Regions from separate parts of the Homo sapiens genome. Here regions 1 and 3 are each linked to region 2. Evidence: fine-mapped expression QTL. A gene starts in region 2. Each other region holds a variant in brackets. All regions are shown on one strand. Distances are between the middles of the regions.

Evidence for each region. PIP is the estimated chance that this variant, and not a neighbour inherited with it, causes the effect. A credible set is the group of variants that fine-mapping cannot tell apart.
Region 1: its variant is the best candidate, but not a certain one, in a credible set for the expression of TMEM245 in whole blood (TOPMed, PIP 0.64).
Region 3: its variant is the best candidate, but not a certain one, in a credible set for the expression of TMEM245 in B cells (Schmiedel 2018, PIP 0.67).

What each region holds. Positions count from the first base shown.
Region 1 is chr9:109,029,584-109,032,351 of GRCh38, forward strand. The region is part of intron 17 of TMEM245 (transmembrane protein 245); the gene reads right to left. Among named protein-coding and RNA genes, the nearest start is that of MIR32, 15 kb to the right of the region's middle. The variant C/T (reference allele first, on the strand shown) is at 1,410.
Region 2 is chr9:109,118,537-109,121,304 of GRCh38, forward strand. It overlaps TMEM245 (transmembrane protein 245), which reads right to left and starts at 1,411. Exons shown (of 18, transcript NM_032012.4): 1 at 799-1,411. The coding sequence starts at 1,377. RefSeq lists silencers at 741-850, 1,201-1,370, 1,511-1,560 and an enhancer at 1,041-1,090.
Region 3 is chr9:109,072,683-109,075,450 of GRCh38, forward strand. It overlaps TMEM245 (transmembrane protein 245), which reads right to left. Exons shown (of 18, transcript NM_032012.4): 9 at 674-756. Among named protein-coding and RNA genes, the nearest start is that of MIR32, 28 kb to the left of the region's middle. The variant T/G (reference allele first, on the strand shown) is at 1,183.

The DNA.
Region 1 (2,768 bases), 89 kb before region 2:
CTCAAAATTTACCTCCTATGCATATTTTCCCGAAAATCTATAAGAGGATGTGCTCCACCAAAAAGGAAGAAATCAAGAAAGAAAATTATATAGGGTATAAGAAATAAGGATTCCAATGCAAGGGAGAGTTGAGGGAATACCCAAGGTGACCGCTGAACAGCAAGCCAAAAGGACAGCACTCCACTGGGGCAGACCAGGGCACTTAGGACAGTCTTCTTTAGAAGACCAACTATGCCTGGTGCGACTGAACATACCAAGTGGAGAGGTGAGTGCCTGGTGCAGAGCTTGAGATGGGATTAGTTATAAGTACATGGAAAGCAAAGCAAATAAAAACCAGTATCTTTATTAATTCAAGAGAAAGCAAAAGTCGTATGGGTAAAGAAATATTAGAATATATGACAAGGCTCAAATATGAATATAATTTAAAGTCATAATAATGTAAAACCTGAATACTGATCTAACCAGTATCACCGTTTGTTTTGGGGGAATGGGTAGTGAAAGCTAACTTCTAACCTTCCAAGTCGGAAGTTATTAGATGATGCCTATATATGACCAAATCAGAAATAAATACGTCACTTCAAGATATGGAGGTAAATATCAAAATAATACAGGGTCAAAAAGTGGTTCCTCTTAGAAAAAGGAAGAAGAGGGAGAAGGCAAAGTCCTTATTGTCCTTATTTTTCACTGAGTTTTGTAGAAATTTGACTCTTTAAACTCATGCATGAGTAACTTTGAAAGACAAAGGCTATATGGGTCCTCACGTTATCTTTTTCTACTCTGCCACGCCACATAAGCATTTTGTACTTTTAGAAGGACAAAGAGTTAAAAAGGTTTATTACCTCTAAAAGAATTCATTTAAGTTGCTTTCATTTCACCTTAAATACTAACTCTTGCTTTAGTAACTTGAAATCATTAAGTTTTTCTCAAAATAACAGCAAAATATTGATCAATTATCTTTTTTCTTTGTGTTTGGTGAGCCCATGGAACAGAGCCTCAAGTTAGCAAGTGCATTCTGTTGATTTCGAGCACCGCTGGCTTCTCAGGTATCTGAGCACTTGTCTTTAAGAGGCAAAGGCAGAAAAGGATATCATAGTGTCACCACCACCAAATTGGGAAGGCCCTTGTCAAAATCACCGAAGCACCTCTCCTTTTATTCTTTTGGAAAAACTGATTTTCCCCTGCCATCAACTAAGGATCACGCATTGGCTAAAATGGCCCCCTAACCAGCTCTAACTCAGAGACTTTACTGCATTTGTTCTGAGTTAAAGGACAATGTCTCTCTTCACAAAATATAACACTAAAAACAAAATTAAGCAGAATCATGTTGTTAAAGAATTTTACATAAAAGTATAAAATATTTTCATTAAATGCATTGTCAGAACCAACTTGTCAGTGACTCCTTGATTACA[C/T]GAGAATATCCAGTGGCAGGAAAACTAGTGTTTTCCAATTGCAGATAACAAGGAGAATGCCATATAGTTTCCGGAAAGTTCAAAACATTTTACTTTTTATTCTGAGACTGTCCTTCTTTTTTGTTGTTAAAATGTAATTTCTGGCACATAACATAGAAAACTGTTTTTAAGTATCCACCTAAACTTAAAACCAGATGTATAACCAGACATTCCTCTTTTAGGTATATGTCCAACTACAGTAAGTACTGTGCGCATGTCCACCAAAAGACATGTACAAAAACGTTCGTGGCAAAATAAGAAATTTTTTTTAAAAAGTTCATAGCATCTTGAATTAAAACAGACATAAACTGCAAACTACCCAAATATCTATTAGTCCTACAATGATTAAATGAGATTGTAATATATTCATGTAATGGAAGATTAGACAACAATGCAAGAATGAACCATGAACAGAGAAAAACATCCAACAATATGAATGAATCACACAGATACACTGTTGAGCAATGAGGACTGACTCAAGAGTACCTACCTACTATATGATTTCTTTTATATGAAGTTCAAAAACAGGCAAAACTAATGAAAAGTGACTATGGTTAGAGTATCAGCAGGCAGTGGGGTCTGACTGAGAGGAGGCAGGGAGAAGCCTTCCAGAACAACAAAAATATTCTATACCTTGATATGAGTAGTGGTTACATGGGTGTGAGTACATGAAAAAATCAACCTGTCTATTTAGAGGTACATTTGGCTATTTAGATGTACATTTCACCATATATAAATTATACCTAAAGAAATTTAAGAAAATTATAAGACAATTGAGAAAAATTTTCAAACATTATAATTTATTTTATGAAATGCTGGTGACAGCAGATAACAGTACTTTTTATTTTAATATCTGTACTTACAAAATAACATGTTGCAACTCTATATTGGTGTCCCAAATAATTTTTTCCCAACTTTGTATTTTAAAAATGTATAAACCTACACAAAATTGAAATGCCGGTACAATTAACAACCATATGTCTTTCATCTAGATTCAACAATTGTTAACATTTTGCTACAGTCACTTCCTCTCTCCCTCTCCCAGTTCTGGCGGAACTGCTTGCAAATAAGTGGCAGACATCATGACACGTCATCTTTAAAGGACATTCTTCTACAGAACCAAAATATCATTGGTTATGACTGGTTATCATTGTATCATTGGTTATCGAAGTATCATTGTTAAATTGGTTAAACCAAATTTAACATTGATATATTATTTAACATATGGTCCATGTTCAAATTTCCCCAATTGTTTCAGAAATATTCCTCCCATCCCCAATCCAGAAATCTATCCCAGACTCATGCAATGCATTTGGTTGT
Region 2 (2,768 bases):
TTTCCAATTCTAAAGCTCCCTGGTTTTGTAAGAGTAAGCTCAGGTTAATCCAAGCATCACAAATCTACGTCTCTCCCCTTCACGCGGTCAGCTGCTTTACTCCAGGCGGGAGGAGGTGTGCTGTGGTACACCAGTCCCTGCACAACAAAAGCAGTTACCTAAAAGTAAAGCGTGGAGAGGAAGAAGCACAGGCAGCTCAGCACCCAGTGCCTTGCACAAATTATACAGGAATCACCTGAACTGAGAGGCAGCACCAGCCAGTGAAGCAAGCTTTGTTTTAGGACTTGTAAGAAATCTAAGACACCCAAACCCCTCTTTGTCCCTAAGTAGCCCTAGCCTGGTAAGAGGTCACCTTTCCTATCTGCAGGATGGCAAGTTGGCCTAGAATCTCTAAGGTCCCTTCCAGCTCTGACATTCAGATGCGCAGAACTGAGGGTGGCCGAAGCACCCCCGCCCTCTCCAACCAGAAGTAAAACCAAGCCCCACTGCCATGCTCTGAGGCCTCTCTCTGCAAAGCGAAATAACGATTCTCAATCCAGGGCACTGTCCCCCTAAGAGGGCCTATTAGGATTGAAACAAGGCGAAAAGCAGGGAGGCTGTTTCAAATCACGCCCGCCCCCTTTTTGGAAGAATGTCCGCCAAATTCCTGAGGTGTGAGAAGGAAAGCGGAGACGGACGGTCACTGCAGCACAGGTGTGGCCCCTCGTCGCCCCTGCACCGGGAGGAACAGCTGCAGGATTGCACCCCAGAGCGCCGGGACCACGGGCGGGGGACGGGGGCGGACTGCCGCTCACTCACCCACAGGCTGCTGAAGTAGTCCAGCCCGCGGCAGATGAGCGTGGCAGCGTGCACCAGCAGCACCTGCACGCCCAAGTAGCTGCCGAGGCAGTAGAGGCCGTACAGGAGCGGGCCGCCGGCGCCGAGCAGCAGGAGCAGGCGGCGGCGGCGCAGCGCCTGCTCGCCCAGGGCCTCGACGCCGTAGTCGACGAAGCAGAGCGGCAGGAGCAGCGCGGCCAGGACGATGGGCGTGTGCGCGCGGTGCAGGCGCTGCAGCCAGTGGCGGCCCAGGCGCGTCAGCGAGCTCTTGAAGGGGTGCAGAAAAGTGCCGCATAGCACGGCCCAGAGCAGCGGCCGCAGGAAGGCCTCCAGGATGAAGTAGACCAGCACCGCGGCGCCGCAGCACAGGCACACGAACAGCACGGCCCCGGTGTTGTAGAAGGCCTGCTTAATGGGCTTGTCGAAGCGCAGCGCCAGCGCCGCGGTCCGCGGGGTCTCCCCGCCACCGCCACTCGGCCCGACCGCGCGCGGGACCCGCGGCGCCGGCCCGGGAGAGCTCCGCAGGCTTGGCGCGTCCTTAGGGCCGCCGCCGTCGGCCATCGTTCCTCCGCCACAGCCGCCCCCGAGGGGCGGTAATGGGAGTCGGGCTAGAAACGCGGGCGGGAGGCAGGGCGGGAGGCGCGCGAGATTGTGGGAGTTGTAGTTCCCCGCTGGTTTACAGACCCACCAAGCGCTTGCAGGAAACTACAACTCCCGAAGGGGAAATGGGGAAAACGCCTCCGCCTCCTTGGTGTCCGCAAGGTCCTGCTAACAAGTTTGCAGGGTCTATATCTTCCTGGAGGGGGGGGGGGGGGGAAGCTCCTTTCACTCATTCGTTAATGTCAATTTCTCGCGAGGCGAGATCCCAAAAGGCGCCACATTCAGATATTAAAACCCAAGCTGCATACTAGAATACCGTGGGGGAGTACTTTTAAAGAACCAATGCCCCGATTCTGTTTTACTGATTTATTTAACAGATATTTTTAAAGTGTTTTCTTTGGTGTATCTGACAGGATTTTAAATAGAGATTACCATATAACAGGCCCTATTCTAAGTGGCTCACTCCTATTAACTCATTTAATCCTTAGAACAACCCTACAAAGAAGGTGTTATTATCCTCATTTTACCAACAGAAAAACTGAGACAGAGCCGTTAAGTACGCAGCCAGAGTCACACAGCTACCAAGTGGCACAGGCAAGATTCAAACTCAGGGATTCTGGCTCCAAAGGCTATACTTTTATCTACCATAGTATTTGGCCTGAGGAAAGAACTCTTGGCATTTTTCAAACGTTCCTCATAAGCCTGTAATTTGCAGCCGCTGTTGACAACTGTTTGTGCAGGTTTCGCTGTGGACGCAATCTAAACTCTTAAAAGAGTCGTAGATCAAAGTCTCAAACTGCCACTGTTTCTTTTTGAGACTTGATGTAATGTCAGTTAAGCCCCCAATCTCAAGTTTTCCTCTGTCACATGGCGATGATAATAATAATAGCTTTTGCTTTAGGGTTATTGTGTGGGGGAAGGGAAACTCTGGGGCGGTACAAGGTGCTTCTGTTCCCCTATTGGAAAAGTGCTGGGATCCAAGCCTGCTACCCATAAAATATCCCAATCAACATTTTGATTTAAAAAAAAAAAGAAAGCCTTGACTGAGTACTCAACATGTGATTGCTTCAAACCTTGCAAGTTGTCCCTTTCCTGTTTCAATAGTATTCCTATTAATTTCTACATAATTTTTGTTTCCCTTCTAAAGCAGACAAGACAGGTAACATAATCCACAGTTTGCAGATAAAGAAACTATTGCTTGATAGATTTGGAGACAAAGGGATTTAGTAAAGGAAGTAAAGGAAAAAGTAATTCCCTATCCATCTCGATTGTAAGTTTTAGGTCTCAGTATTTCAGATGGCCTTTGGAGTTTTATAACCAAAACGCAGGTTTAGTCGCTCACCACTTGCAGA
Region 3 (2,768 bases), 46 kb before region 2:
CTCAAAAATAATACAATATGGGAATATGTCAATAATTATAAAACTGGGCATGGTGGTGTACACCTGTAGTCTCAGCTACTCCAGAGGCTAAAGCAGGAGAACTGCTTGAGCCCAGGAGTTCAAGATCAGCCTGGACAACATGGTGAGACCTCATTTCTTAAAAATAAATAAATAACATAAATTTAAAAATTATATAGAAAGTTGAGGAGTTACAGTTTCCATGTTATAGTGGAAACTTTCCTTCAGTTGATCAGAAGCAGTGGTTATAAATGACTCTGCCACTGCGGAATTATTATCTCAAGTTCCTTAACCTTTGATCTTGTTTCCTCATGTGTAAAATGGGGATAATTTCTTCAATCTATCTCACACAGTCACTGTGAGGAACAAATGACATAAGACAGATGAAGTGCTTTGTAAATTATAAACATGCTGTAAACCTCAATTATAAAACAAAGTATCATTTACCATGAATTGTACCTAAAATCCTGAGCACTTTCCTCCCACCCTCTGTATTACATGACATTCTTCTTCAAAAATGACAATATTTATCAAAGCTCTGGCAAACCCTATCTTTTATCTTCCAATGCAGCTGCATCAATGAAGGTCATTTCGTGCAAACAGATGCTGAAACTAGGCCATTCATCTCTCTTCTTTTTCAAAACAATATTCTTACTTTGCCCACTCAGGGTGATTTGCTAGAGTTTCATTAATCAAATTACTTGTGACTTCAATCATGTGTACACTCTCTTGATGTACCTGTATTACAGATAAAGAAAGAAAAGAATCTCAGTAAAAAATAAACCCAATTTAACATTTATTTTTCTACTCTATTATTGGAACAATGCTTTGAGAGCCAAATAAATACACATCTTTGCTTTAATTAATTTAGAAACATGCAGCGCAAAGTTACTATACATTATATCTAATGATACGCACTACGGGAAATAAAAAGTACATGCTAGCTCCCTGTTCAACACATTACTTAAGAAAAAAATACATAAATAGATATGTTCAAATACTTGACACGTATATGTACATACATTTCATTTGCATGAATATATCGTATAAATGTGTTTGTGTATCTATGTAAGCAATATCAGCACTTTGTGAGCTAACAGGTTCATCACGCAGTGTGAGACAAACAGGCAAATAAGGAACTAACTTTTTTTTTTTGTTTTTTTT[T/G]TTTTTTTTTTAGCCAGGTTCTCGCTCTGTCACCCAGGCTTGCTGGTGTGTAGTGGCGCAATCTCAGCTCGATATAACCTCCACCCCCCACGTTCAAGCGATTCTCGTGCCTCAGTCTCCTGAGTAGCTGGGATTACAGGCACTCACAACCACGCCTGTCTAATTTTGTATTTTTAGTAGAAAAAAGGTTTTGCCATGTTGGCCAGGCTGGTCTTGAACTCCTGACCTCAAGGGATCTATCCACCTTGGCCTCCCAAAGTGCTAGGATTACAGGTGTGAGCCACTGTAAGTAAACTGCAACTAAGTAAGGTTTCTGAGTAAAAAAAGCCAACAGAAGCTGCACCTCTGAATTTACCTTGCCCAATAACCAACAAATTGAGGGAGATAAAATGGGAATTAATCAGTTGAAAAAAAATTTTTTCACCCAGGACATCCAAACAAGGAAAGAAACATAATCTGATACAATTTGGAACTCAGCCATCAGGTAAAGAAACAAAACATTCTGGAGCACAACAGAGAGGCGTAACAGCTCACTCCTAAACTGACCCCATCACCCAGGAGCTACACAGGTGAGCTGACAAATATATTACGATTCACGAGTAACAGGGAGAAAAGAAGCCACATCGTTATCCTTTTCTGATGACAGAGGGAAAGAAAGTGTAATGAGGGAGAAAAGGATAAATCAGAGGAAAGAGATCAAAGTCCCCCACCCACACCCACCCCTCATCTCTGTCCCTTTCTGCAGTGAAAGTTCCATAGTATGCCAGGAATTGAGTGAGACAGTACAAAGACTGACGGTATTTTTCCATGGGCATGGGTATGAGATTAACCAAGTAGCAAAATCACTAGGGCAAGTCACATACCAACCCAGAACAGAACAGAGTCTAGATACCCTAACAAAGATACATAGCCACCTAAGCCATCAAGTGATACCACTTCCAATTCTATCGGGCCCCAGAAAAGTAGGAAGAACACAAAATACAAACTGCACCAAGACGGGGAAAACAAACTGATTTCAGACACAATGAGGGGATAATCAACTCAGGTGCAATGCCTGAAAAACAGCCAGAATGAATAAGGCCTGACACGTTCTTGTGAGGACTTAGGCTAGCATTTTGTGGGATATGGAAAAAGAGAGGGCTGTAAGCTAAGGGACATAATCTTACTTAGATGTTTAAAGTAAGTTTGGACGCTGTGTTGAAAACAGACTAAATGAGGCTAAGGAACAATTCAAGAGAGAACGGGGATAGCTTTGAGCAGGACAGTAGCGGTACTGAGAAAGAAGTGACTGGATTTGAGACCTATCTTACATTAACCAACTGTTGGATGTTAAACGGGTTTTACATTCCCGAAATAAACCTCACATAGATATATTTTCCTTTTTACATACTGCAGGATTTAATCTGTTAATGTTTTGTTAAGGATTTTTGTGTCTATTTATAAGGGATACTGGTCTGCAGTTTCCCTTCTGTGAATGCCTTTGACTTTGGTATCTGGGCAATACTAGCCTCATAAAATGAGCTGACAAGTGTTACTTCTTTGCTAACTGAACAACACTGTGTAGAACAGGCAGTATTTCTTCGCTA